Regions from separate parts of the Homo sapiens genome. Here all the other regions are linked to region 3. The links come from fine-mapping of genetic effects on gene expression. A gene starts in region 3. Each other region holds a variant in brackets. All regions are shown on one strand. Distances are between the middles of the regions.

The links.
Region 1: its variant is fine-mapped to the expression of TMEM42 in whole blood (TOPMed, PIP above 0.99).
Region 2: its variant is fine-mapped to the expression of TMEM42 in whole blood (TOPMed, PIP above 0.99).

The regions. Positions count from the first base shown.
Region 1 is chr3:44,714,263-44,725,178 of GRCh38, forward strand. It overlaps ZNF502 (zinc finger protein 502), which reads left to right. Exons shown (of 3, transcript NM_001134442.3): 2 at 5,941-6,054; 3 at 6,611-9,569. The coding sequence starts at 6,000. The coding sequence ends at 8,190. It overlaps LOC105377056 (a long non-coding RNA gene), which reads right to left. Exons shown (of 3, transcript XR_940788.4): 3 at 1,255-1,575. Among named protein-coding and RNA genes, the nearest start is that of ZNF502, 7.1 kb to the left of the region's middle. RefSeq lists an enhancer at 5,874-7,073. The variant T/G (reference allele first, on the strand shown) is at 5,593.
Region 2 is chr3:44,626,069-44,636,984 of GRCh38, forward strand. ZNF660-ZNF197 (ZNF660-ZNF197 readthrough) reads left to right here. Exons shown (of 8, transcript NR_147692.2): 3 at 3,006-3,476; 4 at 4,746-4,878; 5 at 4,994-5,153; 6 at 6,037-6,128; 7 at 6,405-6,531. ZNF197 (zinc finger protein 197) reads left to right here. Exons shown (of 6, transcript NM_006991.5): 2 at 3,006-3,476; 3 at 4,994-5,153; 4 at 6,037-6,128; 5 at 6,405-6,531. The coding sequence starts at 3,087. All of the region lies in intron 2 of ZKSCAN7-AS1 (ZKSCAN7 ZNF cluster antisense RNA 1), which reads right to left. Among named protein-coding and RNA genes, the nearest start is that of ZNF197, 6.5 kb to the left of the region's middle. The variant C/T (reference allele first, on the strand shown) is at 5,757.
Region 3 is chr3:44,856,608-44,867,523 of GRCh38, forward strand. It overlaps TMEM42 (transmembrane protein 42), which reads left to right and starts at 5,305. Exons shown (of 3, transcript NM_144638.3): 1 at 5,305-5,509; 2 at 7,590-7,736; 3 at 8,433-9,057. The coding sequence starts at 5,318. The coding sequence ends at 8,573. It overlaps MIR564 (microRNA 564), which reads left to right and starts at 5,281; the gene lies at 5,281-5,374. It also overlaps a transcript of KIF15 not described here. RefSeq lists an enhancer at 4,765-5,354 and silencers at 5,385-5,434, 5,765-5,814.

The DNA of each region.
Region 1 (10,916 bases), 140 kb before region 3:
CTCAGCTTTCCCCAGATCTGCAGAGGGATCTTTTTAGCATCTTAAAATCACTAACAGCCAGATTATTCCACAATAGGCATTTGTAGAAGCACCTGTACATTACTTTCTGGGCAACTTATAGACCTAGGAGTCAGCAAATATGGACCAAATTTGGTCTGCCACTTTTTTTGGTAAAACTGTTTTATTAAAACACAGGCAAGCTCATTCAGTACATATTGTCTGTTTCTGTTTTCAGACTACAAAGGCAAAGTTGAATAGTTGAGACAGAGACTATATTTTCCATTTAACCCATTAAACCTAAAAAAAATTGCTTTCTGGCCTGTTACAGAAAATGTTTGCTGACCCTTGACATTGACAAACTGCTGACAGCTCAGATGATCCATGATTGGAAGGATGTGGTCATCACCAAGATGTCTTTCTTTCTCCGTAGGTTTTAGTATCAACCATAATAGCATCTAACCCCTGTTGAGTGCCTGCCATCGAGTAGATATCTTTTTGAATGCTTTATGTGAATTAACTCATCAAGGATTCACAGATTATCAGAGCTGGAATGACCCGTAAATATTGTCTAATTTGTCACCCTTTTCAGATAAATAGCCTGTCATGTAGGCCCACTCACATGGGCTATTGGCAGAGCAAACTTTCCTGAGTCCCAATCCAGTCTACTATCATCTTGTGAATGGGAGGCCAATACCATAGCCATTGGATCTGGCATTTTGTTTTTGTTTTTGTTTCTGGGTTTTTAAAAAGTAACTTTTTCTACCTATAAAAGTAATATATGTTTATTGAAGGAGAAGTAAAAATATAGAAGAGTATAAAGGACAAACTAAAGTGACCCATTAACTGACCTAGAGATAAATGTGTTAATATTTTGGTGGGTTTTCTTTATGTCTTTTTTAAATGTGTGTGTTTTATCTGTTTATTAACAATAGTTTCTGTTTATTGAGTGCTTAATGCCAGTATATGTGTGCATATTTCTTGTTTTTTAGTGTTTTGTATCTTCCTGTTTTAACATATTATATTTTCTCATGAATATTCTTTGAAATTATGATTTTTGATACCTTCATAAGCTATCTTTGCTAGTCTATCAATGTTTATTTGCCTGTTTATTTAACAATTGTAGTAATAGTGTGATCTTTGTACATAAATCTCTGGCCATCTCTGATTATGCTTTTTCACTTTTTCTTTGATTACAGAAGTTAGTTATTCCTATGGGAAAATTTTCAAACATTACAAAAAGATAGGCCTTAAGGCAAAAGTTTACCATAATTTTATTCTTCAGATATGATCACAATAAATAATTTGTTATATATTCTTATAGATTTGTTTTTTTTTTAAAGTGGAGCAAAATATAGATAATAGAGGACATTTGAGGAAATTATTCACAATTCATTATTTTACCACAGTGATGATTATTTTTCCTTCTTGATCTTATTCAGATGTATTTTTAATTTTTAATTTTTGAGAGGGATCTCACTCTGTCACCCAGGTTGGAATGCAATGGTGCTATCACAGCTCACTGCGACCTCTACCTCCCATGTTCAAGTGATCCTTCCACCTCAGCCTCCTGAGTAGCTGAAACCACAAGCACGACACATGTATATTTTAACAAACATATATTTTACATTATATTACTACTTGAAATTTTACTATACTGGATTTTTTCAACATATGGCATAAATATTTTTCCCAATAAACACATATTTTCATTTTTAATGATCTTAATGCCTAAATAATTTTCACCAACTAGAAGTACCATAATTTGCTAATCCTCAGTGTCCACCAGTAGAAAAACTTTTATTTCCATGTACATTTCAGGGGATATTTTTACAAGTAACAGAAGAATTCTGTTTCTCTTCTCTCTGGAAATTTACTTCTTTCTGAGAAAATTCTATTTGTAGAATTACTAGGTCAAAGAATATAGTCTTTTTTTTTTTTTTTTGAGACGGAGTTTCGCTCTTGTCGCCCAAGCTGGAGTGCAGTGGCGTGATCTCGGCTCACTGTAGCCTCTGCCCCCTGGGTTCAAGCAATTCTCCTGCCTCAGCCTCCTGAGTAGCTGAGATTACAGGTGCCTGCCACTGCGCCCGGCTAATTTTTTGTATTTTTTAGTAGAGACGTGGTTTCACCATGTTGGGCAGGCTGGTCTCGAACTCCTGACCTCAGGTGATCCACCTGCCTTGGCCTCCCAGACTGCTGGGATTACAGGTGTGAGCCACTGCGCCCAGCCGAATATAGTCATTTTTTATGGCATACTGATGACTCTGAGGTACACTACAGGTGGTGTATATACAAAATGAGCATTCTGTTCTGAATTCCTGTATCCACAAAATGTTGATCACAGCATCCTAACTATAACTGAAGCTACAACTTTCACACCTGATGTATATTGCCAGATTAGCTCCAGAAAGATGGTACCAACTTACATTCGCACCGGTATGTGAGAAACTCCCTGTACCTTTGTGAATCTTGAGTGTAGCATTAAAGATAGATTTTCCAGTTTGATGTAAAAATTGATTCTTCATTCTTTCAGTTTCCATTTCCTTGTTTACCATAAAGATGGAACATTGTTTTGATATGTTTACTGGCCTGTTGTAATTCTTGGTGTATTTTTTGTATTTTCCATTTTTCTCTCAGTTCATCTTTTTTTCTTACTCATTTGTAAGAAGTCTTTATTAGGTCTGTCTATCCCTTGATATATAACTGAAAAATACTTTTTTAAAGCTTGTTTTTCTTCATTTTCTTTGTATTTTGGATATACAGAGTATTGTTTTTATGTGGTCAGATTTATCAATTTTTGTCCTATCCATTTTGCATCATGCTTGAAAGTGCTAACCCTAGAATGAATTATTGGTCATACTTTATTTTGTGGTTTTACTTTTTTTATTTAACCCTTTAATTGGTTTGGGTTTATTTTGGTGTGTGGCATGATATAGTAATCGCACTTTTTTTTCCAGGTAGTTAGCAATGGTGCCAACTTGATTTATGAATTATCTATCTTTTTGTGATTAGAAATGCTGCTTTTATCATATATTAAATTATTTTTATTTACATCTCTTAGAGGATTAGAGATATTTTATTTAATTAATTTATTTTTGAGACAGGATCTTGTTTTGTTGCCCAGGCTGGAGTGAAGTGATGCAATCTTTTTTTTTTTTTTTTTTTTTTTGAGATGGAGTTTCGCTCTTGTCGCCCAGGCTGGAGTGCAATGACACGATCCATCCTCACCACAACCTCCGCCTCCCGGGTACAAGGGATTCTTCTGCCTCAGCCTCCCAAGTAGCTGGGATTACAGGCATGTGCCACCATGCCTGGCTAATTTTGTATTTTTAGTAGAGACAGGGTTTCTCCATGTTGGTCAGGCTGGTCTCGAACTTCCAACTTCAAGTAATCCACCTGCCTCAGCCTCCCAAAGTGCTGGGATTACAGGCATGAGCCACCACACCCGGCCAATGCAATCATATTAATAGCTCACTGCAGCCTCGAACTCCTGGACTCAAGTGATCCTCCCGCCTTAGTAGCTATGACTATAGGTACACACCACTACACCCAACTTAATTTTTGTTTTTTTTTGTAGAGGTGAAGTTTTCTATGTTGCCTAGGCTGGTTTCAAACTTCTGGCCTAAAGTGATCTTCCCACCTTGGCCTCCTAAAGTGCTAGGATTACAAGTGTGAGCTACCTCACCTTGCTGGGATTAGAGATCTTTTAAGTGTTTAGACTCACTGTTGGAGTTTTCCTAGCCACATTGCTTTAAAGATTTTATCTGTTACTCCTGTGATTTCAAGTACTTTTTTTATGTCTAAAACTCTTCAGGCCACACCTCTCTCCTCTCTTTCAGCTGTGTATGCCCTGTTCTACTTTCTGTTTGGATATTTGAGACTAAAGATAACTTATTCCTTTCCAGACCAGTGTACCAGTGTCACTAAAGATCACTGTCATCTCCCAAAACTGCCTAATTATCCTTGACATCTCCCTCTCTCACCCTTCCCACCAATATTCATTCATTCTGGTTGAACCTTTCTCTTAATCCAGTCCCCATACTGGACTACTGAAATAGCCTCACAAGGGATCTTCAAGCCTTCACCTTGCCCTCCCACTCCTCACCACTACGCAGATTATCTGTTGCTGTAGACAGAGGAATATGTTTCCTTAAAACAGTGGATCTAATCATGTCATGTATTCTATCAAACTGTTTCAAATCCTTATTATGGCTTTCTCTTCACTTTAGGGTAAAGTCCTTAAAATGTTTTTTAGGGTTCTGTTTGAACTGGCTTGCCTCAGGCTTTTATGTCTCATTTCTGGTGTTTAATACTTGGGCATTACTATGTTTCCTTTATTCCTCCAAAGTACTGAGCTTGATTCCTTTTGTATGTTCATTTTGTCTCTCTTCTTTTCCCTTTCACACGTCTAAAGGGGACCCAGACTATATTAGGTCCCCTGTGCTTTACATTCTGTAGCACCCCATACTTGCAGTTTTGTAACTCCCATATTTGAAATGATTCATTTAATGTCTTTGTCCAGCTATGACACAAGTTGGAGCCAGATAGGGTGTCTGGCTTCTTTTTCCAGCGTCTAGCACTGATTAGTCACCCAAATGCAACTCTGCTTGCATGAGTCTCTGAGTCTCTGTAGGATTGTATAGTAGCTTACAGGTTCCTTTATGTTCTTCCTGTGAATGAGAATCAGAATCAGGAAAACCAGGTAGGATCATCTTCTTTTTTTTTTTTTTTTGAGATGGAGTCTTGCTCTGTCGCCCAGGCTGGAGTGCAATGGCGCAATCTCAGCTTACTGCAGCATCTGCTTCCTGGGTTCAAGTGATTCTCCCGCCTCATTCTCCCGAGTAGCTGGGATTACAGGCACCTGCCATCATGCCCAACTAATTTTTGTATTCTTATAGAGACAGGGTTTCTCCATGTTGGCCAGGCTGGTCTCAAACTCCTGACCTCAGGTGATCCGCCTGCCTCAGCCTCCCAAAGTGCTGGGATTACAGGCGTAAGCCACTGCTCCAGGCCAAGGATCTTCTTAAATCTTTAAAACTCAATGCAGAAGCACAGACTTCACTAAGAAGTCCACAAGACCAAGCTTATTATGTACTTGAGCAGACTTATTTTATTCTTTCATGTCTTCCAAGTTCTTGACTCTGGTAAAATCATATCTGGATCTTCCCTTTTTCCTTGAATAATGCTGCCAGTTCTGCTTCTCACTTCAAGGTTAAATGGAGAGATATTTTTGAGTGAACAGTTTTGGTATTGATATTTTTAAGAAGCAGCATTTACAGAAACTGGTATTTTTGCAACTTTTTTGTAAGTCAAAACTTATTTCACAGTTAAATTTATTTCTGTTTCTTTTTAACTGCAGCCTGTTCTCTGACACTGAGCTATACCTGAAGAAAAACTGTTTAATTGATATGACATCTTGAAGAAGGGACAATCAGTGTGTCTCTAGTTTGTATCAAGTAGATAGCATTCCCTAACACTATCTCAGCTCCTTGGCATTTGGTAGAAGTGGGTAAATCAGACTTAATGCACAAGCTTTGCTATGAGGACATTTTGCTATACAACTTTTAACTATATTAACTGGCTTTTCATATAGAT[T/G]ATTGTATGATGGCCAGAGTGTACTAATTGATGTGAATATTCCTATTCGTTTAATCTTTATAATTATAAAAAGGTAATGAATAACATTCTGATTTACTTATCAAGTGCTTAAATATTTGATAGTATGTTAGTCTGATGTTACCACTTCTTGAACAGCTGGCAAATGGGGTGTGAACCTAGGAGGCTACAAGCCAATGCTGATTTTTGCGGATGCTTCCACATTGTTATCCTGAGAGTTATTGTGTGTGTTATTAGATAGTGTCCCTAGGCAACAGCTCTTTGTTTTCGTTCTGTTTACTGGGACAGTAATATTCCCTCCCTCCCTGCACCTTTTCTCCCCATGAGCAGGGTTCCCAGTTTTCCAGACCTGAAGTGTTTTCCAATCAAAGCGAAGAGACGATCTGTGGATGTTGAATATGCAAGGAGCTGAAGAGAGAGACATTAGAAGAGAGACTTGTCCAGGTGAGTGAGCAAGGGACAAGCAGTGGGAGAAATAGTCAGCCAATAGGAAGCCTTTGGAAATTTTAGAGGACAAGCTGGGTGAGGCTCAGGAGATAAAATAACTGTCTCTTATAGGGATGTTGGGGACAGGGGTGGGTGAACATGTCTGGGGCCAACTTTTCCCCAGTACTAATTTTATCATTCTCATTTCTAGCATTTTCCTGTTTACATTCTCCCACTCTCCACTCTGGATACAAACCATTCATGTTTCCTGTCTTGCCCTAATCTCAGCCTGTGTGTTGGGTGTTGTTTTTCATTTATCTCTATTGTCTCATTCTCTTGCTCCTTGGGTGTCTGTAGCTACCCCTTCCATGGGAGTTCCTCGTTAATGGTGATCACATTACCCTAATGCATATCTCTTCTACCAGTTACAACTCTAACTTACTTGCCACACTTGCTGTTACTGGCCCTTCATCATAGGCCATTACTGAGGTCTGCCAAAAGTTAAGGTCTTACAGTTTCAGGGGCCTTCACTCTGCCCTGTACAGGAGATATTCATTCTGCTGTTTTCTTTCAGGCTGGGTAAACAAGAACAAGCCTGCTCTGGAGCAGGATGTCTGTAAAATTGACTCATCAGGGATAGTAGTAAAGAGGTTCCAAGAGGATGAATACCAAGATTCTACATTTGAAGAAAAATATGCATGTGAGGGCATGAAGGAAAACTCTCCTAGGGAGATTGCTGAATCATGCCTTTTCCAGGAAGGAGGTTTTGGGAGAATAACTTTCATCCACAAAGAAGCACCCCCTGAAATTATTAGTCAAGGATATAATTTTGAGAAAAGCTTGCTTTTGACCTCAAGCCTTGTTACACGTCTCAGGGTTTCTACAGAAGAGAGTCTGCATCAGTGGGAAACAAGTAATATACAAACCAATGATATTTCAGACCAAAGTAAATGTCCAACTCTCTGCACACAGAAAAAATCTTGGAAATGTAATGAATGTGGAAAAACCTTTACTCAGAGCTCATCCCTTACCCAACATCAGAGAACTCATACTGGAGAGAGACCCTACACATGTGAGGAATGTGGGAAAGCCTTTAGTCGTAGTTCATTCCTTGTTCAACATCAAAGAATTCACACTGGAGTGAAACCATATGGATGTGAGCAGTGTGGGAAAACATTTCGATGTCGATCATTTCTTACTCAGCATCAAAGAATTCACACTGGAGAGAAACCTTATAAATGCAATGAATGTGGGAATTCCTTCCGCAATCACTCACATCTCACTGAACACCAGAGAATTCACACTGGAGAGAAACCTTATAAATGCAATAGGTGTGGGAAGGCATTCAATCAGAATACACACCTTATTCATCATCAGAGAATTCACACTGGTGAGAAGCCTTACATATGCAGTGAATGTGGCTCTTCTTTTCGAAAACACTCAAATCTTACGCAACATCAGAGAATTCACACTGGGGAAAAACCCCATAAATGTGACGAATGTGGGAAAACTTTCCAAACAAAGGCAAACCTCTCTCAGCATCAGAGAATTCATAGTGGAGAGAAACCCTATAAATGTAAAGAATGTGGCAAAGCCTTTTGTCAGAGCCCATCTCTTATTAAACACCAGCGAATTCATACTGGAGAAAAACCATATAAGTGTAAAGAATGTGGCAAAGCGTTTACTCAGAGCACCCCACTCACTAAACATCAGAGAATACATACAGGGGAGAGACCCTACAAATGCAGTGAATGTGGTAAAGCCTTCATTCAGAGCATTTGCCTTATTCGGCACCAGAGAAGTCACACTGGAGAAAAACCCTATAAATGCAATGAATGTGGAAAGGGCTTTAATCAGAACACCTGCCTCACTCAGCATATGAGAATTCATACTGGAGAGAAGCCCTATAAATGTAAAGAATGTGGGAAAGCCTTTGCTCATAGCTCATCTCTTACTGAACATCATAGAACTCACACTGGTGAGAAGCTCTATAAATGTAGTGAGTGTGAGAAAACCTTCCGCAAGTATGCACACCTTAGTGAACATTACAGAATTCACACTGGTGAGAAGCCTTATGAGTGTATTGAGTGTGGAAAGTTCTTCAGACATAGTTCAGTCCTTTTCAGACATCAGAAACTTCACAGTGGTGACTAATGCTGCCATTTAGGTTATGACAGTTTCTCTAGCGAGGATGACTACGAATCTGACTGGGAGTAGAGGGGCAGGTAGAGTTCCTGGAGGGAAGGATGAAGGAGCCTTGGCTACTGTACTCTGAGAGGAATGTTTCCAGAAATGGAGGTGGGAGCTTAGGGAATGCAGAGCCTACTTGAGGTGGGCATCTGGGAATACAGGGTAGAAAGAAATTCCTGCTTTTCAGATAAAGCCTACACATTGCCACTGTCTCCCCATGTGACTCTTACAGCTTGAGGAGGCATTTGTTAGCACTTCTGTTCACTTTACTACATCCTGCCCCACATTCTGACTTGTCACCCATTTTCGTTGGCTGGCAGGTTGAGATGTTTTTCTTAAACACTGCCTGTCAGTGTGAAGTGGCACAGCTCTGATGTAGTGCTAAGTCTAGCCTCCAGATTTGAGGCAGCCCTGACCATGCTACCATGGGGGAGGCTCCCAACCTGTGGAAGTGGTCCTGTGAAAAGGAGACAGAAACAAGTAAGAGCCAAAAAAAAAAAAAAAAAAAATCCATATCCATTCATTAAAAAAATGAGATATAAAGCAACAACTGGGCTGACCTCTATAGATCTGCCAGTAAAGAAGGCTTTCTTTCATTATCAGGGTGAAGGTCTTTCCTGATTCTTCCAAGCTTTGAGGTGACTCAGAGCTAAGAATGAAATAGGAGACCAAGTTAGAATTCATGATACTGGTTTATGGGGAGGCAGTCATACCTGTTCAGAGAACCAGGAAGACTCAATATCTATCTCAGAGGAAATATGGTTACCCAGGAAAGAAATGGTCTGCTAGAGTGATAAGACTCAGAACAGGAAGCCTGCATGTGACTGAGCAAGTCACCTACATAACCCTGCCTGTACTAAGGTGTACACCTGTCTATTGTAAGTTTGCCTAGGCTGTTGGTGTACAGAGACCAGAGGAGAGAGACACACTAGGACTAACAATGTCCTAACAAAATGGTACTTAGTTTGTTGGTCTTTAGGAGAAAGCATTAGTAATGAAAGAAGAAAGAATTTTCACTTGGTTGGACATTGGGGCTCTTAAGAAAGTTGACATTTGTCGTGGAATGACTTTGGAAAGACTTCTAAAAGAATCTTTTTCAAATCCCTGAAAATCAGGATAGCACATTTTGCTACTGACTGTGACAGTGTTTTATTCTTTTGAGAGAAATGACATAGTTTTCCCTTTATTTCCCAAATTCCTTTCATGTTCTTAACTGCTACCCAGAAATTGAGCTTCAGAAGATTGAGGATAGCCTTTGATTGGTATTTAAAATAATTTCTAAGCTGTGAAGCTTATAGCATTTTTAAAGTATGGCTATTAAAAACACTAAGTTGATTCTGGAATGCTTGGTTATTTGGAACTCATCGTTTTTTTTTTTTGTTTTTGTTTTTTTTTTTTTTTTCTAGAGCAGTTGCCTTGTAGGGATAGGTTTGGGCCATGAATTACCATTAATGGGAGTATGGTATAAATATATATCTTTTTCACTTTCTATGAAGATTATGTTCTTAAAACCTACCACCAGTGAAGTCATAATTGAGAAAATTAATACACTATGGGTAAAAATAATGCTGTAAAACCTTTCTAAATATGTTTGTGAAAATATTATTTTACCAAAAGCAAAAATGTATTTATACCTCCTAGATAAAAACTGCATAATTAATTACTGGCACATAATACATGTTCAGTAAATATTTATTTCATGAGTTATATCAACTATTGCCCAACAGAACCTTTCTTGGAACTTCCTGATGAATAGTTATTTATAGCAATATTTGTACACCATCTTGAGAATTATGAGTGGAGATTAGAATAGGGAGAGTTTTCTTAAGAAAGAAACAAGAAAACTTTAAAGATATCTCAGGAGGCTGAGGCACAAGAATCACTTGAACCTGGGAGGTGGAGGCTGCAGCCAGCCGAGATTGTGCCTGTGCACTCCAGCCTGGGAGACAGAGTGAGACTTTTTCTAGAAAAAAAAAAAAAAATGATATCCATAAGTTCTTGTGGGAAAGATTTTCTCAAGTGAAACAGACTTGATCCTGAATTTTTCTCAGGCTGAGAAAATATGGCATGTTTTTACCTTCTGGGGAAACAGTTAAATAACTGTTCTTTCCACTACCCTGACCCCATATTCTTACACTTGGACTTATGTGCTCCCGATTTTCTCTCAGTTGCTGGCCCATGATGTACCTAGTCTCTCCAGCATGGCCCCAAACCTAGTCATTGCCCTCACCCTCAGTTTTCCCTCTTATTCAATCTTCATATCCATTCAACCACTATGTCCTGTTGAAGTTATCTCCTATCTCTGGAAGCCATCTCCACTGCAGTTATTGTAGTCCAGTCCCCTACTCCCTAATTTATTTTCTAGACTATTTTATTTTTAATTTTAATTTTTTTTTTTTGAGACAGGATCTCACTCTGTTGTCCAGGCTGGAATGCAATGGCATGGTCTCTGCTTACTGCAAACCCCCACCTCCCAGGCTCAAGCGATCCTCCCATTTCAGCCTCCCAAATAGCTGGGACTACAGGCATGTGCCACTATCCTTGGCTAATTTTTATATTTTTTTGTAGTGATGGGTTTCACCATGTTGCTCAGGCTGGTCTCGGACTCCTGGGCTCAAGCAATCTGCCTGCCTCAGCCACCCAAAGTGCTGGGATTATAGGCATAAGCCACTGTGCCTGGACTTCCTATT
Region 2 (10,916 bases), 230 kb before region 3:
TGTGAGAAGCTAATAAAATGTATGTTTAAGAATTTGTTATTTTTATGTTATTTGAAAATTATTCAAAATTCTTTTTAAAAATTCCTTTCCATCACCCCCAGATCAGTTACCAAGGACTACCAAGTTTTTCTCAATTGCCTTATCCCTACTTCGTTTAGAACTTAAGTCATGTGTTTAGACTATTAGAAAAACCTAACTGACCTTTCTTGATATCCAGCCCTCCCACCCCCACCATTTCTCACTAATAGAGTCCTGACACCACTTAAGACTCTCTTCATGCTCAGAGTGAAAAAGGTCTTTCTAATTGTGGTACAGTACCCAGAAGTCGTAAAAGATTGACTGCATGGCAAAAAACACTTTAAGCAAAGTCACATGGCATATATAGTCACAAAGACACTTGACAAACTGAGAAAAATTTGCAGCTGCCATTGTAAACAAAGGACTAATTTTCCTGTGATAAAAGTGTGTACAAATTAACAAGACCCAACACCTCAATGGAAACATGGGCAAAATATATGAATAGTTACTTTAAAAAATATACAAATGACTCTATATTAATTCGTTCAAAATGCAAGTCAAAAATTTGGCGAAGAGCACAAACTTTGAGAAACATATTGGTGAAAGTGAGGAAAGGCACTCCCATACAGCTGTTTCTGATGGGAGTATAAATTATAAATTGGTTCAATCCTAGTGAGGTCAAATTGGCAATATCAAAATTATACATGTATATACCTTTTAACTCAGCAATTCTGATTCAAGGAATTTTTCTTATATATGCCTACACACATCCAAACTGATGTATGCCCAAGATTATTCATGATTATATTGTTGGTAATAAGAAATGATTGAAAACTACCCAAACATTCCATCAGTGCTGGCATGAATAAATTATGATACATCTATGCATCCATAAAAATGCGGAGAGGGGCTGTGTATTGACAGGAAAGATCTCTAAGACATATTATTGAGAAGAGGAAAATGTACCACGTCATTCATGGTGTCCTACCATTTGTGAAAAAAAGGGAACTAGAAAACAATATATGTACACACATATGCAGAAATAACTGGAAAGATAGATAAGAAGCTAACGGAGAAGGAAACTTTACACAGTATACATTTTATAATTTTAAATTTTGAACCAAGTGAATATATTACTATTTTTAAAAATAAGGAAAAATGTAAAGTAAAGCCTCTTTAATGCTGAAATGTAAGTAAAATCACTTCACTTACAGGACAGGATCATCTCCTCAGAATACTGCCTCTCAAGAGCAGTAGTTAGAATTTAACTTCTGTTCACCTCTCTGCTCTACTCCTACACTCTTGCCTCTGAAGTTTACTTTCCTTCTCTGGTCTTCCTTCACAGAGTTATGTGTCCTTCCTTGCTTTTGAAAATAGAGTTTCTTTCTTCCTGGAATGGCTTTCCTCATAGTCCAATGATCCTTTTATTTTTCCTTAAAAGCCCAATCCAAAAGTACCTTTCATGGCTGGGTATGGTGGCTCATGCCTGTAATCTCAGCACTTTGGGAGTCCAAGGCAGGCAGATCACGAGGTCAAGAGATTGAGACCATCCTGGCCAACATTGCGAAACCCCGTCTCTACCAAAAATACAAAAATTACCTGGGCATGGTGGTGCGAGCCTGTAGTACCAGCTGCCTGGAAAGCTGAGACAGGAAAATTGCTTGAACCTGTCAAGCAGAGGTTGCGCTGAGCCGAGATCATGCCACTGCACTCCAGCCTGGGTGACAGAGCGAGACTCCATCTCAAAAAAAAAAAAAAAAAGAAATTTCCTTTCATGAATCCTTTCTGTAGTTTTATGTTCTCCTATTACTTGTACTTAAACATTATATTGAAATTATGTTTATATTTCTGGCTCCCCTGTTTGTTATAAGCAAGCTCTCTTTAAGGGTCTGTGTGTTCAAATAAAGAGGATGTTTTCATATGTCACTGATGGTGATATAACTGTTATAACCTTAAAAGCTTAAAAATGTTTTTATCCTTCAGCCCAACAATTTTCTCCTAGGAGTTTATCCTGAAGAAATAAGCAGAGATGTAACTAAAAATTTGTTATCAAGGATAGCCGTTGTGACCTTATTAATAATAGGGGAAAGTTAGAATTTATCTATGATAATTAAACTATGGTAAGGACATAGTTCAGAATAATAGCAGTGATTGTTTTCTGGTTTTGTGTGTTTTCTGGTTTTATAATTAGAAAAATGTTATTTCTAAAGAGCAGATGATTTCTAGAGAGCAAGTCTAAGTTCTGTATAATAAAACTCTATTCATATTTATCCATCTGTGGGACTAGATGTGAAAGGAAAAGAAGAAAAGGCAAATTTATCCAAATATTTTGATTAACAGAAAGAACAATTTTCAGAGAATTAAAGGCATGTAGAGCAAAACTACACAGAACTTAATTCATCCTTTCTTTGTTAATTGAGGAGGTGGTTAGGATTTTCTCTCATATGTATCATGATTAATGATTACTTGTTAACTCTGCGGAACATAGGAAAGAGTACTAGTTACAGAAGGGTAATAAGTAACATTTAAACCCGTATACCAGGCACTGTTCAAAAACTTGAAATGTATTATACATCAAATTCTCATGACAACCCCATAAGGTAGGAACTGTTACTATCCCTATTTTACAGGTTAAGAAACTAAGGCTCAGAAGTGAGGTACTTGTTCCAGGTTACACAGGAGTAGTCAGGATGCTCATTGTTAGAGTGGTAAAGAGTCTATTGTAATTAGCTGAAGGGATCCTATGAACAAAGACCAAAGGAAGTTCATGTGTTTGGTTTCAGCAGTCTCGTGCGTAACATGAGTGTTTGTATCCCAGAGCCTTAGGCAGGGGGTTTCTGTCAGAGGAAGCACTCTCTAGAGCCTGGAACCTTGCACTCACAAAGGTTCTCTTTATTACTGGGAGCTGACTGGGAGCTGACTGGGGCCTGGAAAGCTCAGTTGTTTCTCTGGGCTAACTTTAACAATGATTTCTTGAGGTCTTGTAGATGATACTCTCCAAGCTGTAAGGAAGAAGTCAAGGATTAAGGAGACCTGGACTGGAGAGGAGCCTTTTTCAAAAAACAACAATGACAAGAGAAAATGTAGCCCACAATGCTCTGAGACAAGAGGGCCTTGTGAAGGGGAAGGATGATACCTGGAAATGGGGAACCAGCTTCCAAGGAAGTAGCTCCTCTGTTTGGGAGACCTCCCACCTACACTTTAGACAATTACGTTACCATGAGACATCTGGACCCCAGGAAGCCCTGAGCCGGCTCAGGGAACTCTGTCGCCGGTGGCTGAGACCAGAAGCACGCACCAAGGCACAGATCCTGGAGCTGCTGGTGCTGGAGCAGTTTCTGAGCATCCTGCCTGGGGAGATTCGGACCTGGGTACAGCTCCATCACCCTGGAAGTGGCGAGGAGGCTGTGGCCCTGGTAGAGGAGCTGCAGAAAGACCTTGATGGACCAGCAATACAAGTGAGAAAGACAGGGAGGGGCGGTGGGTGTTGGGATGAAAGGAAGGAAAGAATTGAGGCTAGGCTAGAGGGTGATCCTGTGATTTTCATTAAAAATTAATAGCATTAATAGCACACTAGCAACCTTAATGATAATTAAAGCAGGTCCATGAGTATTCAGACCATAGAATATGTCTGTAGAGAAACGGATTTACGTTGAGGTCTTCGGGTCCAACTGAGAAGCAGCATAAAAACATTGACTGTTTTGTCCCTTGGGTAATGCTTGCTAATGCTGAGTTTGGACCAAGAACCTGAAGAAGAAATGTTAATAAGTTTTTCCCTAAACAGAAGCCTATGTATTGTTTCTATAATTCTGTTTGGAATGGTGATGTAAGCCTAGAGTATAAAAGGCAATAGCAGGCCAGGCACAGTGGCTCATGCCACAGCATTTTGGGAGGCTGAGGTGGGAGGATCATTTGAGGCCAGGAGTTCAAGACCAGCCTGGACAACATGGGAAGACCCCATCTCTACAAAAAATTTAAAAATTAGCCAGATGTAGTGGCGAGTGCCTATAGTCCCAGCTACTTAGAAGGCTGAGGTGGGAGGATCACTTGAACCCAGGAGGTTGAGGCAGCAGTGAGCTATGATTACACCATTGCACTCCAGCCTGGGTGATGGAGTGAGATCCTGTCTTTAAATAAATAAATAAATAAAATGGCAGTAGCATAACAAGAATGAAGCTTTCCACATCTTGGTAAGATCTCCTCTTGTGTGCCCTACTAGGGATCTGCAAGCCAAGGGATTGGGTTAAGATATTTGCTTCTGATAAGATTTATATCCTTGACCATTAGATTGGGATCTTAATGTAGCCTCTCATGTGTGTGAGATTTCTTTTTGTACATCTGTAGCTCACTAGAAACATTTCTGTATAAGACGTCTGAATCATAACTCAAACTTGGGTGTGGCATTAAGGATGGGCTTGTTTCTTTTAATAATAACGTGAACAATTTTAGAGCTATATATTTCGTTACAAATTACTAATACATCCTCATTTGAGAGATAAGGAAACTGAGGCAGATGTCTAGCTGGCCGCAAAACCAAGTGTCTTGGTGCCAATTTTAGTGTTAGTTGTATTTGAGCACAAAGGGCTAGGTAAAGGGGTCAATAAGTAGATGGTAAATAAGTAGAAGAGATGTGACTGAAGTCCGATCTAAAACTTAAGTCTGAAGCTAAAATCCATGCTCTTAATTACTGCTTATTACTTCCCATTCCCTCCTTAACCCACACCCAGGTCTGGCTTCTGTTCCCACCGTTGTGTACAGTCTCCTCTGGGAGAGGTCACCAGTGCCATGAGTGGGGCTCGAGGGCAGCTCCATTGTTCTCAATGCAAAGCTTTACTGCTGTTTTGATGCTCCATACTTGAGGTGGGTCTCTCTGATCTCACAGTTGTAGATTGTGGGCAGAAAGAGGTCCACAGTGCTTAGGTGAGTCCATTTTCTTAAGAAACAAGAAGAGCTAGCTTATTTTACTTGTTTCCAGGTTCCAGTCCTTGTCAAGGATCAGGACACTCTCCAGAAGGTGGTGAGTGCCCCAGGAACAACACTTCCTCCTGTACTTCCTGGCAGCCACATAGCAGCTGAAATTTGCCCGCATCCTCCTACTGACCTAGTGGCATTCAACCTCCAGGATCCTCAGCATGGTATTTACTCAGTGCTCTGGGTTTTGGGCTGTTCAAGGACCCTTCCTGTGGCTCATCCCCCTACTTCCAGGGAGTTGCTTCCTCTGCTACCCTGTCTAGGAGTCTCTTACAGTGCCAATTTCTTTCTGCTGTTCTGTTGTTCTCTCCTTCTTTCTTGGGCCCCTCTGAGCTTGTATACATCCCCCCTTTTTTTTTTTGAGACGGAGTCTCGCTCTGTCGCCCAGGCTGGAGTGCAGTGGCGCGATCTCAGCTCACTGCAACCTCCGCCTCCTGGGTTTACGCCATTCTCCTACGTCAGCCTCCTGAGTAGCTGGGACTACAGGTGCCCGCCACTGTGCCCGGCTAGTTTTTTAATTTTTTTTTTAGTAGAAACGGGGTTTCACTGTGTTAGCCAAGATGGTCTTGATCTGACCTTGTGATCTGCCCGCCTTGGCCTCCCAAAGTGCTGGGATTACAGGTGTGAGCCACTGCACCCGGCCATTTTTGTTTTTTTTTTTTGAGATGGAGTCTCGCTCTGTTGCCAGGCTGGAGTGCAATGGCACAATCTCGGCTCACTGCAACCTCCGCCTCCCAGGTTCAAGCCATTCTCCTGCCTCAGCCTCC[C/T]GAGTACCTGGGACTACAGGCACGTGCCACCACGCCCAGCTAATTTTTTTGTATTTTTAGTAGAGACAGGGTTTCACCATGTTGGCCAGGATGGTCGTAATCTCTTGACCTTGGGAGCCACCCACCTCGGCTTCCCAAAGCTCTGGGATTACAGGTGTGAGCCACCACGCCCTGCCTTGTATCATTCTTACTGCTACTCTTTGTGTTATTCCAGCTCTGCAAGTGGGGTCACTCAGAAAAGGTTTGTAGGTCCCATATGCAGCTTTTTCTCCCTCCTCAGATTCTCCTGCCCCTGAAGCTTCTGCCCTTTCCCAGGAAGAGAACCCAAGAAATCAATTAATGGCACTTATGCTCCTAACAGCCCAGCCCCAGGTAAGGTTTGCATCCTCTTTCCTTCCCATCTGCACAGCGTAACTGTGGCTGAAGTGCCCTCTCTCATCCTTGTGCTTCAATGTCCAGTCAGTTCCCATTTCTAAATCAGGGTCTATGCTATTGGAAGACAGACTTTACATGTGATCTCCTTATGTCTCCCTGATGTCTGTTATGCACTCATGGCCTCACAGTGTATCCCTTCCCCAGAAGTGAAGGGAACCTTTCGACAGGCAAGTTCCTGGGCATTGGTAATCTCACACACACTTGTTATTTCAGGAGTTGGTGATGTTCGAGGAGGTGTCAGTATGCTTCACTTCAGAGGAATGGGCATGTCTGGGCCCAATCCAGAGGGCCTTGTACTGGGATGTGATGCTGGAGAATTATGGAAATGTGACCTCCCTAGGTAAGGATTCTTCTTTCTATGATGCTTACCTTTATTTCACCAGCCTTTATTTGTTTTCTGATTATAAAAGTAGCATATATGTATTTTGGAAAACACCGAATATTACAAAGAAGAAAAAAACCTTCCTTAACATCGCTATTTCCAGATAACTATTATCATTTTGATATATTACCTTTCTGTTTTTTCTATATGTTTGAGGGATTTTTTACATTGTTCCAAAGTGTGTGTGTGTGTGTGTCTGTGCACAGTTTTATAGCTTGCTTTCCTTGTGTGTGTTCTCACATGTTACAAACTCTTTGCAGTTATTATCTATATTGGCTATATGATTTGTACCATAATTCAGTCAGCCATTCCTTATTTTAGATAACTGCTATAATAATCATCTGTCTCTGTGCCTAAGGCCTTCTAAAATGTTTTATTATTTTTAGAGGTACAATTACTGGGCATAAGTGTTTGAATGGCTTTGAGGCTCTTGCTTCATATTGCCAAATTACTTTCTGTAGCGATCCCTGTCCTCTCTGTTCTTAGAAGTGGTGTATAAGAACACTCCTTTTGCTCTGCCTTCATTTGTACTGAGTAATCCCACAATTCTAAATTGTTGCTAATATATTTTTAAAGTTATATATATTCTAAAATAGATTTCTTTGATAAATAATAAAAGAATATTTCAAAACAATTTTTAGCCATTTTTGCTACCAGCAGACATTAAATACCTATCATGGTACAGCTGTGAAAATGATGTGATTCGGCCCTTAAATAGCTTACAATGGTTTAGGAGATGATTACAGAGATATTAAATATACAAGGCAGAGTAAAATAATTGGTACAAGAGTGGCATAAACCTGGTGTGACAGAAATGCAGAAAACGGGGCAATCAGTTTCATTCCTAGGGATTAGCAAAGGCCATAAAGGAGGTAGCATTTATACTGGAACTTGAAGAAAAGAGTAGAATTCTCTTTGGAGAAATCAACGTTCAGAACTGGGTAATCAGCCACAGGAACTAACTTTGACTGAAATACAGATTTACAGTATCAGTTTAAATGGCTGCAGAGTATTGCATGGTCTGTGTATCATGCTTTACATTGACAGCTTTATGATTCTGAATGTTTCTATTCAAGAACATTACATAACATTCCATTTTTTCTGTACTGCTTTTGTATGCATCGGGCATGTTTTAAAATTGCCTAGATCTTCCATATTTCTGGTAATATTTATTCTTTGGAATTGGAGTCTTTTCTGTATTTTCTAATTGACTGTCATTTGCATATATGAAAGTACTTTTTGTTTGTGTTAATTTTGTACCTAGCAACTTTATTTTATTATCTTTAATAATTTAAACTGTACATTTTCACACTTTTGAGACTGTATCCTTTAGTATCTCAGTAGTGGCAGTGGTGGGTGAAACAGTCTGTAGATTTTATACTTTGATACATATTACCAAATTATTTTCTACCAATGATACTTGAATTAAACTCCCACAGAAAGAACACACAGGAGAGCCAATTTTCCCTGGATATGCTCATGATTTGGTCAGTCTTTTAATTAAATCTTTGCTAGGTAGATGAAGAATACCATCTTTTGTTTGTTTTTCATGTTTTCATTATTAGTGTGATTGAAATCTCTTCATATGTTTATTGGTCATTTTACTCCTATTCATATACTTCCTATATATAGAACTACTGCTAATGCTTTGTCAGTTGTTGCATATGTTTTTCCCATTTGTTTGCCTTTCAATATTATTAATTTTTTTTAAGCCTTAGAAAATCCTTTATGTTGTCAAACTTGGCAGTATTTTCCTTTATGGTCTTAGTGGTCTTTTTCCTCATAAAATTATTTTGTAAACCCACCTGTATTCTATTTTTTTTTTTGAGATGGAGTTTCCACTTGTCGGCCAGGCTGGAGTGCAGTGGCGTGATCTCAGCTCACTGTAACCTCTGCCTCCTGGGTTCAAGCAATTCTCCTGCCTCAGCCTCCCAAGTAGCTGGGACTACAGGCATGCACCACCAGGCCCAGCTAATTTTTGTATTTTTAGTAGAGACGGGGTTTCGCCATGTTGGCCAGGCTGGTCTTAAACTCCTGACCTCAGGTGATCCACCCGCCTCAGCCTCCCAAAGTGCTGGGATTATAGGCGTGAGCCACCATACCCAGCTGTATTTTCTTATTTATCATTTTATTTTGACATTTAAGCTTTAATCCATCTTGATATTTATCAATATATCTTGATACATAGAATGACATAGACATCTTGTGGAGGGGTGTTATTGCTTTTTGAGATGGCAGCCTCACTATGCTGCCCAGGCTGGCCTCAAACTCCTGGCCTCAAGCAAACCTCCCACCCCAGCCTCCCAAGTAGCTGAGACTCTAGGCATGCACCACCCTCCAAGCTTGTTTTTTAATCCAAGTAGCTTTCAGTAGTTCCAAAGCTATTTACTCAATAATCAATCTTTCCTAAAAATTTTAAAATAGACTATATGGATTAATTGGCTAATTTTATGAAGAACACTCACCATGGACCCATACCTCATGCTGTATACTAAAATAAATTCCAGATAGGTCTAAGAGTTAAACTAAAAAAAAAAAAAAACCAATAAAATAATGTAATTGCTTGATTATTCTGGCTCTTTGAAGAAAAAGAAACTTGAACCTACTTTAATAAATTAAAAAAAAAATGTGCACTCCGATGTTGTTGGGGCTTCGGGCAAGCAGATGCCCAATGTTTATTCCCATTGACTTAGTAACTCTGATTTGAGATACATTAAAGAAATGGTTCAGAAAGAGGAAATAAAAGTTATATGTCTAAAAATAGTCCCAGGTAACTATGATGGTTAAAAGTTGGGCAAAACAAATTCCCTAAGGGTAAAGTACTAAGCAGAACATGGTGTTTTGACCTAATAGTATATTATGACACTATCAAATATTATGACAACTCTGTGTACTCAATTTTCATGCATCGATAAACTGTGGTAGAAAAGTAGACTCCCAGATAACTTGTACATACTACTTCAGTATGTAAAATATTTGTATATGTTTATTTAGGAGATTGGACTAAAACTTGAAGGAAAGTATTAAGAAATATTGAGTACCTCCCCTGTCAGGCTTAGCCCCTGCCTTAAAGTACATTCAGATTGGAGAGATAGACATTTCCACTTATAATTACAATACAATTTGGCACATTCTGTATAATAAAAGGGTGCATAAGTTTGTGTGAGCCCATAGGATCCTGGGAATGATGGAAGGATTGGGACAGTGGGAGGAGGAGATGGATGGTTCCCAGTTCCTCCACCAGGAAGGAAAGATTTATAACAGTTTTACTGAGGTATATTTAACATACCGTAAAATTCACCATTTAAAGTGTACAGTTCAGTGGTTATTGTGTATTCACAGAGTTGTGCAACCATCACCACAATAATTTTAAAACATTTTCGGCCGGCATGGTGGCTCATGCCTGTAATCCCAGCCGTTTGGGAGGCCAAGGCAGGCGGATCACGAGGTCAGGAGATCAAGACCATCCTGGCTAACACGGGGAAACCCCGTCTCTACTAAAAATACAAAAAAATTAGCCGGGTGTGGTGGCAGGTGCCTGTAGTCCCAGCTACTTGGGAGGCTGAGGCAGGAGAATGGCTTGAACCCGGGAGGCAGAGCTTGCAGTGAGCCGAGATTGTGCCATTGCACTCCAGCCTGGGCGACAGAGCAAGACTCCGTCTCAAAAAAAAAAAAAAAAAAAAATTTCATCAACCCCAAAAGGAACCTTGAACCCTTCAGCAGTCCACCTTCATTTCACCTAACTCATTCCTCCAATCCAGCCCTAGCAGGCACCAATCTACTTTCTACCTCTGTAGATTTGTGTATTTGAAACATTTCATATAAATGGAATCATGCAATATGTGGTCATTTGTGATTGGCTTCTTTTACTTAGCATAGTATTTCTAAGGCTCATCCATGTTGTATCAGGTATCAGTTCTTTATTCCTTTTTATTGCCAAATATTCCATTGAATGGATGTATCTCCCATTTATCAGTTGATAAATACTTAGGTACTTCCGCTTTTGGTCCATTATGAATAATGCTGCTATGAACGTTTGTGTATAATTTTTTGTGTGGATATATGTTTTCATTTCTACCTAGAAGTAGAATTGCTAGGTCTTATGATAACTCTGTATTTAATCATTTGAGGAACTTCCAGACTGTTTTCCAAAGCAACTGCACCATTTTACACTCCTTCCAGCAGCGTATAAGGGTTCCTGTTTCTCTGCATCATCCCTAACACTTGTTATTATCTGTCTTTTTTATTTTAACTATCCTAGTGGGTCTGAAATGATATCTCACTGTGGTTTTGATGTGCATTTACCTGATGGTTAATGATGTCAAGCAACTTTTTATGTTCTT
Region 3 (10,916 bases):
AAAACTGGCCATGAGGGACAGAAGTTGGAAGGCTAGGTGCTTCTTTAGCTACCTTATCAGCATAAGCATTGCCCTGAGCGATAGGATCTGATGCCTTTTGGTGGCCCTTGCAGTGTATGACTCCAGCTTCCTTTGGAAGTAAAGCGGCCTTGAGAAGAGTTTTTATTAAGGAGGCCTTAATGATGGAGGACCCTTGCGTAGTGAGGAAACCTCTTTCTGCCCATATAACAGCATGGTGGTGCAGGATATGGAAGGCATAGAGTCAGTATAAATACTGACACGTAGTCCTTTTGCAAGAGTGAGGGCCTGAGTTAAGGCAGTGAGTTCGGCTTGCTGAGAGGTAGTGGAGGAGGGCAGAGCGGTAGCCTCAATGATAGATGTGGAAGATACTACAGCATAGCCTGTTTTGCTGGTGAGTGGCAATTAGGCCTGGTGGAACTGCCATCAGTAAACCAAGTGTGATCAGGATGAGGAACAGGAAAGAAGGAAATATAGGGAAATGGAGTGAATGTCAGGTGGATCAGAGAGATACAGTCATGGGGGTCTAGTTTGGTATCCAGAATAATGTGGGAGGCCGGACTGAAGTCCGGGCCAGAAAAATGGTAACTGTGGGAGACTCAACAAAGAGTGAGGATAGCTGAAGGAGTCGGGAAGCAGAAAGTATATGCATCAAGTGGGAGGAAGAAAATAGATTTTGGAAATTATGAGAACTGTAGAAAGTGAGTTGAGCATAGTTTGTGATTTTTAGGGCCTCTAAAAGTATTAGGGCAGCAGCAGCCGCTGCACGGAGACATAATGGCCAGCCTAAAACAGTAAGGTCAAGTTGTTTGGACAAAAAGGCTATGGGGCGCGGTCCTGGTCCTTGTGTAAGAATTCCGACTGCACAGCCCTGCACTTTGGCTGTGTGTAATGAAAAGGGTTGGGATGAGTCACAGAGAGCTAGTGCAGGAGCAGTCTCTAAAGCTGTCTTCAAGGAACGGAAAGAGGAGTGGGGAAAAGATTTAGGATCTATAGGGTCGGCTAGATTTCCTTTTGTGAGTTTATTTAACGGTTTTGTTAGGATGGCAAAACCAGGTATCCAAAGTCGAAAGTATCCAACCATGTCCAGGAAGGAAAGGAGTTGTTGTTTTGTAGAAGGGGTTGGGGTTTGAGAGATCAGTCAGACATGATCGGCAGAGAGAGCACGTATGTTTTTATGAAGAATTATGCCGAGGTAGGTAACGGATGGAGAAGAAATTGAGCTTTGGAGGGGGATACCCAATATCCCTTGGAGAATAAATGTTGAAGGAGCAGGAGGGTGTCCTGTTGAGAAGATTCAAAGGAGGGGCTACAAAGTAGAAGGTCATCAATATATTGAATAAGGTGAGAAGCAGAAGGGTGGAAAGAAAGTAAATCAAGAGAAAGAGCTTGGCTGAAGTAATGAGTGCTGTCCCTGAAGCCTTGCGGCAGTACAGCCCAGGTAAGCTGCTGGGACTGATGGGTGTCAGGGTCAGTCCAGGTAAAAGCAGAGGCTGGGACGAGGGGTGTAGGGGAATAGTGAAAAAAGCATCTTTAAGATCAAGAATGGAATAGTGAGTTGTGGAGGAAGGTATTGAGGACTAAAGAGTGTACAGGTTGGGCACTACAGGGTGGATAGGCAAAATAATTTGGTTGATAAGGCGCAGATCCTGAACTAACCTGTAAGACTTGTCCGGTTTTTGAATAGGTAAAATGGGAGAATTGTAAGGAGAGTTTATAGGTTTTAGAAGCCCATGCTGTAGCAGGCGAGTGATAACAGGCTTTAATCCCCTTAAAGCCTGTTGTGGGATGGGATACTGGCATTGAGCAGGGTAAGGGTGATTAGGTTTTAATGGGATAGTAATGCGCGTGTGATGGGTTGCCAGGGAGGGAGTGGAGGTGTCCCATACTTGTGGGTTAAGGTGGGGGGGATACGAGAGGAAGACACAAAGGAGGCTTTCGGTTGGGAAGAAGGGTGGCAATGAGATGTGGCTGTAGTCCAGGAATAATCAGGGAAGCAGATAATTTGGTTAAATATTTCAGCCTAATAAGGGAACTGGGCAAGTGGGGATAACTAAAAAGGAGTGCATTAAAGAACGTTGTCCAAGTTGGCACCAGAGTTGGGGAGTTTTAAGAGGTTTAGAAGCCTAGCCGTCAATACCCACAACAGTTATGGAGGCAAGGGAAACAGGCCCTTGAAAAGAAGATAATGTGGAGTTGGTAGCCTCTGTATTGATTAAGAAGGGGATGGACTTATCCTCCACTGTAAAAGTTACCCGAAGCTCGGTGTCCGTGACGGTCCAGGGGGCCTCCAAGGCGATCGGGCAGCATCAGTCTTCAGCTGCTAAGCTGAGAAGATATGGGAAGGAGTCAGTCAGAGAGCCCCGGGCCAGAGTTCCAGGGGCTCTGGGAGTGGCTGCAGGGCAAGCTGGACAGTCTGATTTCCAGTGGGGTCCCGCACAGTTGGGACACGGCTTAGGAGGAATCCCAGGGCTGTGGGCATTTCTTGGCCCAGTGGCCAGATTTATGGCACTTTAAGCAAGCTCCTGTGGGAGGCGGTCCTGGAGGAAAGCCTGGCCACTGCGGTTCAGACGTTTTGAAGTTCTTGTGTGCTGGAGATGTGGCTGGGGTTTCTCTCACAGTGGAGGCAACTAATTGCAACTCAGAAAAACATTGCTACTTGGCTGCCTTTACTCTATTATTGTACACCTTGAAGGCGAGGTTAATTAGGTCCTGTTGTGGGTTTTGAGGGCTGGAATCTAATTTTTGGAGCTGGCGGCTTGGGTGCGGTGGCTCATGTCCGTAATCCCAGCACTTTGGGAGGCCAAGGTGGGTGGATCACTTGGGCCCAGGGGTTCAAGACCAGCCTGGGCCACATGTCAAAATCCTGTCTATACAAAAAATACAAAAATTAGCCAGGCATGATGCACCCATAGTCCCTGCTACTCAGGAAGCTGAAGTGGGAGAATCACTTGAGCCCAGCAGGTTGAGGCTGCAGTGAGCTATGATCCACCACTGTACTCCAGCCTGGCAGACAGAGCAGGACCCTGTCTCAAAAAATACATATATATATAATCTGGGCTTGATGGTACCTGCCTGTAGTCTTAGTTACTCAGGAGGCTGAGCTGAGAGGATGGCTTCAGCCTGGGAGCTCAAGGCTGAAGTGAGCCATGATTACACCATTGCACTCTAGCCTGGGTGACAGAGAGACTCTGTCTCCCTCTAAAAACAAACAAAATTCAGTCTAGCTCTAGACCTAATGAGAATCTTCATCTTAGCAAGATCCCTAGGTGATGTGTGTACACAGGAGTTTCTTAGAGGCAGAAATCACTTCCCAGCAGTGTCTGAGGATGGCATCACTTCAGCCATCATCACCAGGGCTGGGGACCTGGAGATTAACAACGATGTAGTCCCTGCCCTCAAGGAGCTTGCAGGCTAGCAGAGAAACAGACAACCAGAGGAACAACCACAGGACTGGTACAAAGGTAGGGGAGTAGCAGAGACGGCTTTACAGAGGAGGTGGCTCTGAGATGCTTAACCTTTAGTGCTAGTAGAGGCATCGTTTGTTCTAAGAAAATTTGCTTTACATTCTTTAAAGCATGCAGAGTTGATCAATGCAACACCTCTTGATTTCCTGATAAGAGCTTTCAGAGGGTATCATCTTTGAGCAGCTCCTTACTCAATGGAGTGGTGCAGTGAGACCTCTGAGCCTCAATTTCCTCATCTGCAAAATGGGACAGTTTGTACCATATTGGCGTTACTGAAATTATCCGTGTTTTTTTTTGAGACAGAGCCTTACTCTGTCACCCAGGCTGGAGGGCAGTGGTGCAATTTCGGCTCACTGCAACCTCTGCCTCCTGGGTTCAAACAATTCTCTGCCTCAGCTTCCCAAGTAGCTGGGAATACAGGTGCCCGCCACCACACCCAGCTAATTTTTTTTGTATTTTTAGTAGAGATGGAGTTTCACCATCTTGACCAATCTGGTCTTGAACTCCTGACCTCGTAATCCACCCACCTTTGGCCTCCCAAAGTGCTGGGATTACAGGCGTGAGCCACCGTGCCTGGCCTTATCCGTGCTTTTATTTGAGCCACAAAACCACCCTGTGAGAGAAGCAGCATGGTGTGGAAGGACTTCCATAAAAACTTGCTAAACAGAAGATACAAAAAGAATGCTGCTAAACAGTATGTTCAACTGTGAAATCATTTTTGTTTAAAAAATGCATATACATATTCTATAATTTTTTTAACATTTTAACTATATATAACTAAATAGACATATAGAAAAATGCTCTATTAACACTGATTTTCCTGGAGAGTGGAAATAGCACTTTATACATTTCAACACTTTATTTTCAAGGACGTGTACTTTTTAAATGGGAACATTTTATTTTTATTTTTATTTTTTGAGACGGAGTTCACTCTTGTTGGCCAGGCTGGAGTGCAATGGCATGATCTCAGCTCACCACAACCTTCACCTCCCAGGTTCAAGCGCTTCTCCTGCCTCGGCCTCCCGAGTAGCTGGGATTACAGGCATGCACCACCACGCCCGGCTAATTTTGTATTTTTAGTAGAGACGGGGTTTCTCTATGTTGGTCAGGCTGGTCTCGAACTCCCGACCTCAGGTGATCCACCCGCCTCGGCCTCCCAAAGTGCTGGGATTACAGGCATGAGCCACCACGCCCAGCCGGAAACATTCTAAACATACGTAAGTATAACAGGAGATTAGAAGTCATGTTGATTCTGCGTGGCTTGATTATGGATCATTGTCTTCCTCTCATCGCAGATCCTCATTTTTTCGGTTTTCTGTGATGCGCTTGTCCCCATATGGGGCTCTGGCGTCTTTCTGGGTCTGGAGGTCCCCAGCGCCCTCTGCCGAGGCATCTCTTGGTCCGGCGGTCCTCAGGCTGGAGGGTGGAGCGGAGAAGCCTGGTCGACGTGGATGGACTCGGTGGGCCGGCGCGGGGCCCGTTAGGCATCTTTAATAAGTTTCACCGGGAGCCGGGTGGCCGGGATGGAGACGGCTAAGCCGCGAGAAGTTTACCTTCTACCACAGCGTCCACAGTACCCGGCTTGGCCTCAGGCCTCGGGTCCCGACGTCCTCCCCAGAGCACAAACCTACTACAGGTTAGGCCGGAGGCCGCCACAGCCCAGGGTCTCTGCCACCTGGCCCGCCCCCTCCGAGGCGCCGGAGAGCGATTCCCAAGGGGCCTGCCGGAGCGTGGCGTCACAGGAGCGTCGCGTCACGTGAGGCTGCCATCCAATCGCGGCGCGCGCTCTGCCCTGCGGGCAGCGGGTGCCAGGCACGGTGTCAGCAGGCAACATGGCCGAGAGGCCGGGGCCTCCGGGCGGCGCCGTGTCCGCGACCGCGTACCCTGACACCCCCGCGGAATTCCCTCCGCACCTCCAGGCGGGTGCGATGCGGCGCCGCTTTTGGGGCGTATTCAACTGTCTGTGCGCCGGCGCGTTCGGGGCCCTGGCCGCCGCCTCCGCCAAGCTGGCCTTCGGCAGCGAGGTCGAGCCCGGGGCGCTGTTGGTGCTGCTGCTGCGGGCGGGCGGGCGGGGCGCCGCTGGGCGGAGGAGGGGCGCTGCGGGGCCCGCGGGGCTCTTGGGGTGGGGCGGGGGTGGGCGCAGGGCGCCGCCGCACCCTCGCCGGTCTGTCCCGCCGGGGCCCCGGGCCGCGGGCGGCGCTGCGGTCAGCTGGGGTGGCAGAGAGTGTTTCGCCTCTAATCACGCCAAACCCTCGTCCAGTGTAGGTGGTAAGAGACGTCGGGGACTGAGGCCTCTTCCCTTACCAGGGACCTAAAACCTTTTCTCCGGTTGGGCTAGTTCGCTCTCGGGGAAGAACTACACCTCCTACATCCACCCTCTACCTCTCATTTTAAGTCCCTTGTGCCTGAGCATTTCTCTCCACGTGACTCTTAAGGTGAGAAGCCTCTTGCCCATCCCTTTACTCCGTAATTAACGGGTGTTGTGACCAGATGACCAGTCTGCCCCACTACCAGGAAAATTGGGAGTTTGGGATACTGTAGGCATAAGAGGATACTGACAGAGACGTTCTGGATGTTTTCCTGACGCTGAGAACTCCTAAACTTGCATCCTGGCGTCTGCTAAGGTGTATCTCTGCCTCTCCCTCCCACGTCGTAGACCAGCCTCTGCTTGCTATAGGGGTTTCATTGCGTCTGCAGCCCAAGGTTAGCCTCTGACCTGGACAGTGGTCACTGATTATTTAGGGTTAAGCCTATTTAGGGCTAATCCAGTAGTAGCTGCCATGCTTCAGGTTAGTATCCCATTGGGTGTAGTTCATGGGGTAAGTGGTCGAAAGTAAAATGAATAACTTTGTATGGGCCGTGAAGTTTGTTGTCAGGAACTAGACCTTCATAACCCTTTAAGCAGGTTGCCACTGGCCCATATGCTGCTTTGTGTAAGACAAGGTTGTCCAACTCGCGGCCCAACGCAAATTTGCAAATTTAAAACATGAATTTTTTTGCGATTTATTATTTTTTTTTTAGCTCATCATATATCATTAGTGTTAGTGTATTATATGTGTGACCCAAGACAGTTCTTCCAGTGTGGCCCAGGGAAGCCAAAAAATTGAACACCCTGGTGTAAGTTATAAGCAAGCACCTTTTTCTCAAGACACTATGTGTTCAGCTGCTGAGAAACCATTACAAGTAATAAGTATATTTAGATTCCGCACCCCCCCCCCCCGCCGCCTTGTCTCCAGGCAGGTTTCTAACTCACCACCAAGCAAGGGGGACTGCATATCCTTTGTGTAGGAGGCTTCTAAAGATCTTCTCTTCTCTTGAGACTTTCTCCTTTAAAAAAAAAGAAAGAAAATACCTGCAAGTTCTCCAAGGGATGTCTGGGATCACTAAATAGTCTGAGGTGGTGTTTCCCTCAGGCAAGGCTGTGCCCTAGTTAAGAGCATGGAGGTACACTGCCTGCTTGTGAAGCCTGGTGGCTCTCACCGCTGTAGCACTTTAGGAAGGTTACTTAATGCCCCTGGCTCTTTATCTGTAAAATGAAGTTAAGGAATAAATGAGAATGCTTAAACACAGCCCAGGACCTAACACAGAGTAAAAGCTCAAGAATACCCAGAGGGGGTCAGCCTTAGTGGGCTGTAACTTGTATAGGATTTGGGGGTGGGAATACAGAGCAGACATTGCTAATTCATGCTTTGCCTGATCTCAAGAAATAAGAACTCTACCCTAGGCTTACTACCTACGGAGTAAGAACTACTTGGCCCTCTGGGACTGATCTTCAAGCACTGGTCATTGTGGGACCAATAAGGGGCCGGTGTTCAGTAGAAAATACTGGCTTTGGATTAGCATTTTGCTTCTTCCCAAGATCATATGGCCAGCAAGGTGGCCAAATGAGTATCTTCTCTGAATTTGCTTTATTTGTAAGATGGGTCTGCTGCCCACTGAGGGTTAAGTGAAGCCCTGTGCAGGAAAGCTCTGAGGCCCTCTGAGCTGTAGTGGGAGCTCAGTAGGAGCCTGGGTGCCAGCAACCACAGTCCTGGGTGTGCTTTGAGGGGGTCTGCAGGTTGCTGCCCAGGGTGGACGTGGCTGCAGTGACACTTTCTCCTGCAGGTGAGCATGGGTTTATGCGTCTTAGGCATTATTGTGATGGCGAGCACCAATTCTCTGATGTGGACCTTCTTTAGCCGGGGCCTCAGTTTCTCCATGTCTTCAGCCATTGCATCTGTCACAGTGACTTTTTCAAATATCCTCAGCTCGGTGAGTAGCCTGAGGGTGTGGTGCTCTTGTCCTAAATCTGGGTTCTGGGTGAGTTGTCTTTGGATAACCCCTCCTTTCCCAGACAGGAGAAAGGACAGGAACTGAAGCAGAGGTTGGGCTGTGGCTTGACCCCTGGATGAGTGCTCTATTCATGGAGCAAATGTAATTCTAATCATGGAAGAATTCTTAAGTTAGATATGAGTGAAGCCTGACAGTAAAAAGCCTACTTGCTTGCTGTTCCTCCAGGGTGGAGCCCTCATTCTGAAGTCACTGTGCATCCTAGCTGTTTCCTAGGGTTCTGTGTACTCAAGGCTCCATGGCATTTAGAGGGTTGGGATTCCCAGAAACTTTTCTGCCCTGTGTAGTCTGAGGTTGACAAGATGGAGCTGAGCGTAGTCAATCTTGAGTTGAGGGAGAAACAAATACCATGTACCTGCTGTGTCTACCTGCTGGCATCTGCTGGGTCTTTCTTGTGTACTTTGCTGAGGTCCAGTGCAGTGAGGGAGGTAGCCTCTCCACTCATGCAGGGGAGATTGAATAGAGTGACTTGATGAAGGTGACAGCTAGGTTTCAAGCCCAAGGCTTCTGGCTCCAGACCTTTCCTCCTGGCACCCTTAGAAGGAAGTCAGTCCCAGGAGAGTGAGGTTGTGCCCACCTGCTGAAGTTGAGTCCCTCACAGCTATCTTTGTCTCGCAGGCCTTCCTGGGCTATGTGCTGTATGGAGAGTGCCAGGAGGTCTTGTGGTGGGGAGGAGTGTTCCTTATTCTCTGCGGACTCACCCTAATCCACAGGAAGCTCCCACCCACCTGGAAGCCCCTTCCACACAAGCAGCAGTAGCACCACTTGGCTAGACGGACCAGCTGGAAAGATCATGATGGTGGCCCAGCCTTGGGATGTCATGTGGGACTGTATCCTAGGGCGATCCAGTTGTGCAGCCTTCTGACCATCAGCCAAGGGAAGCAGGCCTCTGATGGAGCAGGCTCTGGCTCTGTAAGGAGAGGTGCAGCTGCAGCAGTGTTCTACCGGAAGTGTTTTGATCATCTGTACAGTGCTTTGGATTCTTCCTCCCAGGCCTACCCCAGTGAGCCTTCGCAGATGCTGGAGATCCTGGGGTTGGTCTGCTTTGTGTATGGTACTTGAAACCACGCTGTAATTATTGTCCTGTTGCCAAACAAAAGCCAGTCATGTAACTCTAGAAGCAGTGACTGGTGGGGCTTTCTGACAGTTCCATGCTGATGTATCAGGCCATCTGTGTCATGCTTATGTATTATGGCAAGAAGAGGAAAACTGGATTAATAAATACGTTTTTTGTAAGTTAAAACTACCAGGTACGGTATCTTAATTCTTTCCTTCCCTTTGGAGTAAGAGGGAGCCAGAGTGAGCTGAAATCCCAATGTGGAGGAGGCAGGAGAGTGAGGCAGGTACAGAAGCCTTGTGGCTTCGGTTGCTCTGACACCTGCTAGAGCTTGATCTTGTGGTTACTTCCTGAGGTCACACAGGCTAAGGCTCTTTGAACTGCACAGGGTCTGTTCATTCTCCTGGTGCTCTCAAGGAGAAAAGTTTGACCTCCCTTTGGAGACCTTGTTTTACTTGGGAAAGAAAGTGGTTCAGAGGTCCCTCCATTCCCTGCCACTCTGTTCCTCTAGCGTTTACCTTTAGGGCTCTTCTGTCATTTGCTTTTCTTTCTCAGATTCCCCTTTGGTTTTTTTTTGTTTTTTGTTTTTTTGTTTTTTTGGGTTTTTTTTTTTTGAGACAGTCTCGCTCTGTCACCCAGGCTGGAGTGCAGTGGCGCAATCTCAGCTCACGGCAAGCTCTGCCTCCCGGGTTCGCGCCATTCTCCTGCCTCAGCTTCCCGAGTAGCTGGGACTACAGGCACCCGCCACCATGCCCAGCTAATTTTTTTTATTTTTAGTAGAGATGGGGTTTCACCATGTTATCCAGGATAGTCTCGATCTCCTGACCTCGTGATCTGCCCGCCTCAGCCTCCCAAAGTGCTGGGATTACAGGCGTGAGCCACTGCACCTGGCCCCCTTGTTCTTTTTGTATCTTAGACCATGTGAATGTAATTCCTAGTTCAAAGTGGGCTGTGTGCTGCCTGCACACTTTCCCAGCACAGAGCCTGAAGCCCGGCACTTACCTGCCTCACTTCTCCCCTGGGGTGTCCGAGGGCCCTCTCAGCTCTCCTGAGTCTGATCTCTGGCCCCAAGTCTTCTTCATACATTTCCTGCAGTTGAGAGGGACCTGGTAGCCAGGAGGCTAGGAGAGCGAAGGGTCTTGTCCAGACCCTCCTCCTCGCCCATGTAGCACCTTCATTGCTCTCCTCCCTTACTGTGGTCAGCACAATTGACAGAATGAGCTTACTAAAACCATTCCACGGCTCCTTCTGATGGGGATCTGGCCCTAGCCCACCACTCCAACAAGAGTTCTCTTCCGCAATGACTCCTTAGTACCCATCTCCCTCATGCTAGCCCCACCATGCTGAGTCCCCCCAGACATCTGCAGGTCAGCCATTCTCAAATCCACCATGTCCAGTCCTGCCAACATGTTTTGTACTTGCTCTTACCCTTGCCTTGGGTTCCCTTTACCTTCACCTCTCGCTGGCAAACTCCTGCTCTTCAAAACCCTTGAGCTCCCATGGGGGCCAGGACAAAGCTGTAATTCACAGAATGTTAATCATTTAGCTCCACTTTGACACATTGCCTCCCAGCCAACCCGTGAGGGAGTTACTCTTGTTCCTGTATTAGAGGTGAGGAAACTAAGGCTTGGGGAAGTGGAATAATTTGCCTGACATCACACAGCTGAGGAGTGCCAGAACCACAATGTCAGCCCGATCTGACTGGGCTCAGCTCAGTCCCTACCTCTGTCCTGCTTCCCACACCAACACCTGAAAACTCAGAGAGGCCCTGCAGTAAGGGGCCTGTTCCATACTGTGACTCAGCATGCCCAAACCTCAGAACCCTTTGGTCACCAGCCACCTACCTTTTCTTAGGGGCTCTAGTGTTGATCTCCCTGATCTAGTCTGACCCCACCATTCTACCAGTGAAGAAGCTGAAGGATATTCAAGGCTTTCCAGGGTGTGTTCACCATATGGGTCAGACACCCAGCCAAGGCCAGACCTGAAGGCTGCTGATAGCTGGTGGTCGGCCTCCCTGGGCAGTTAGTGAAAAGGGCAGAAAGAAG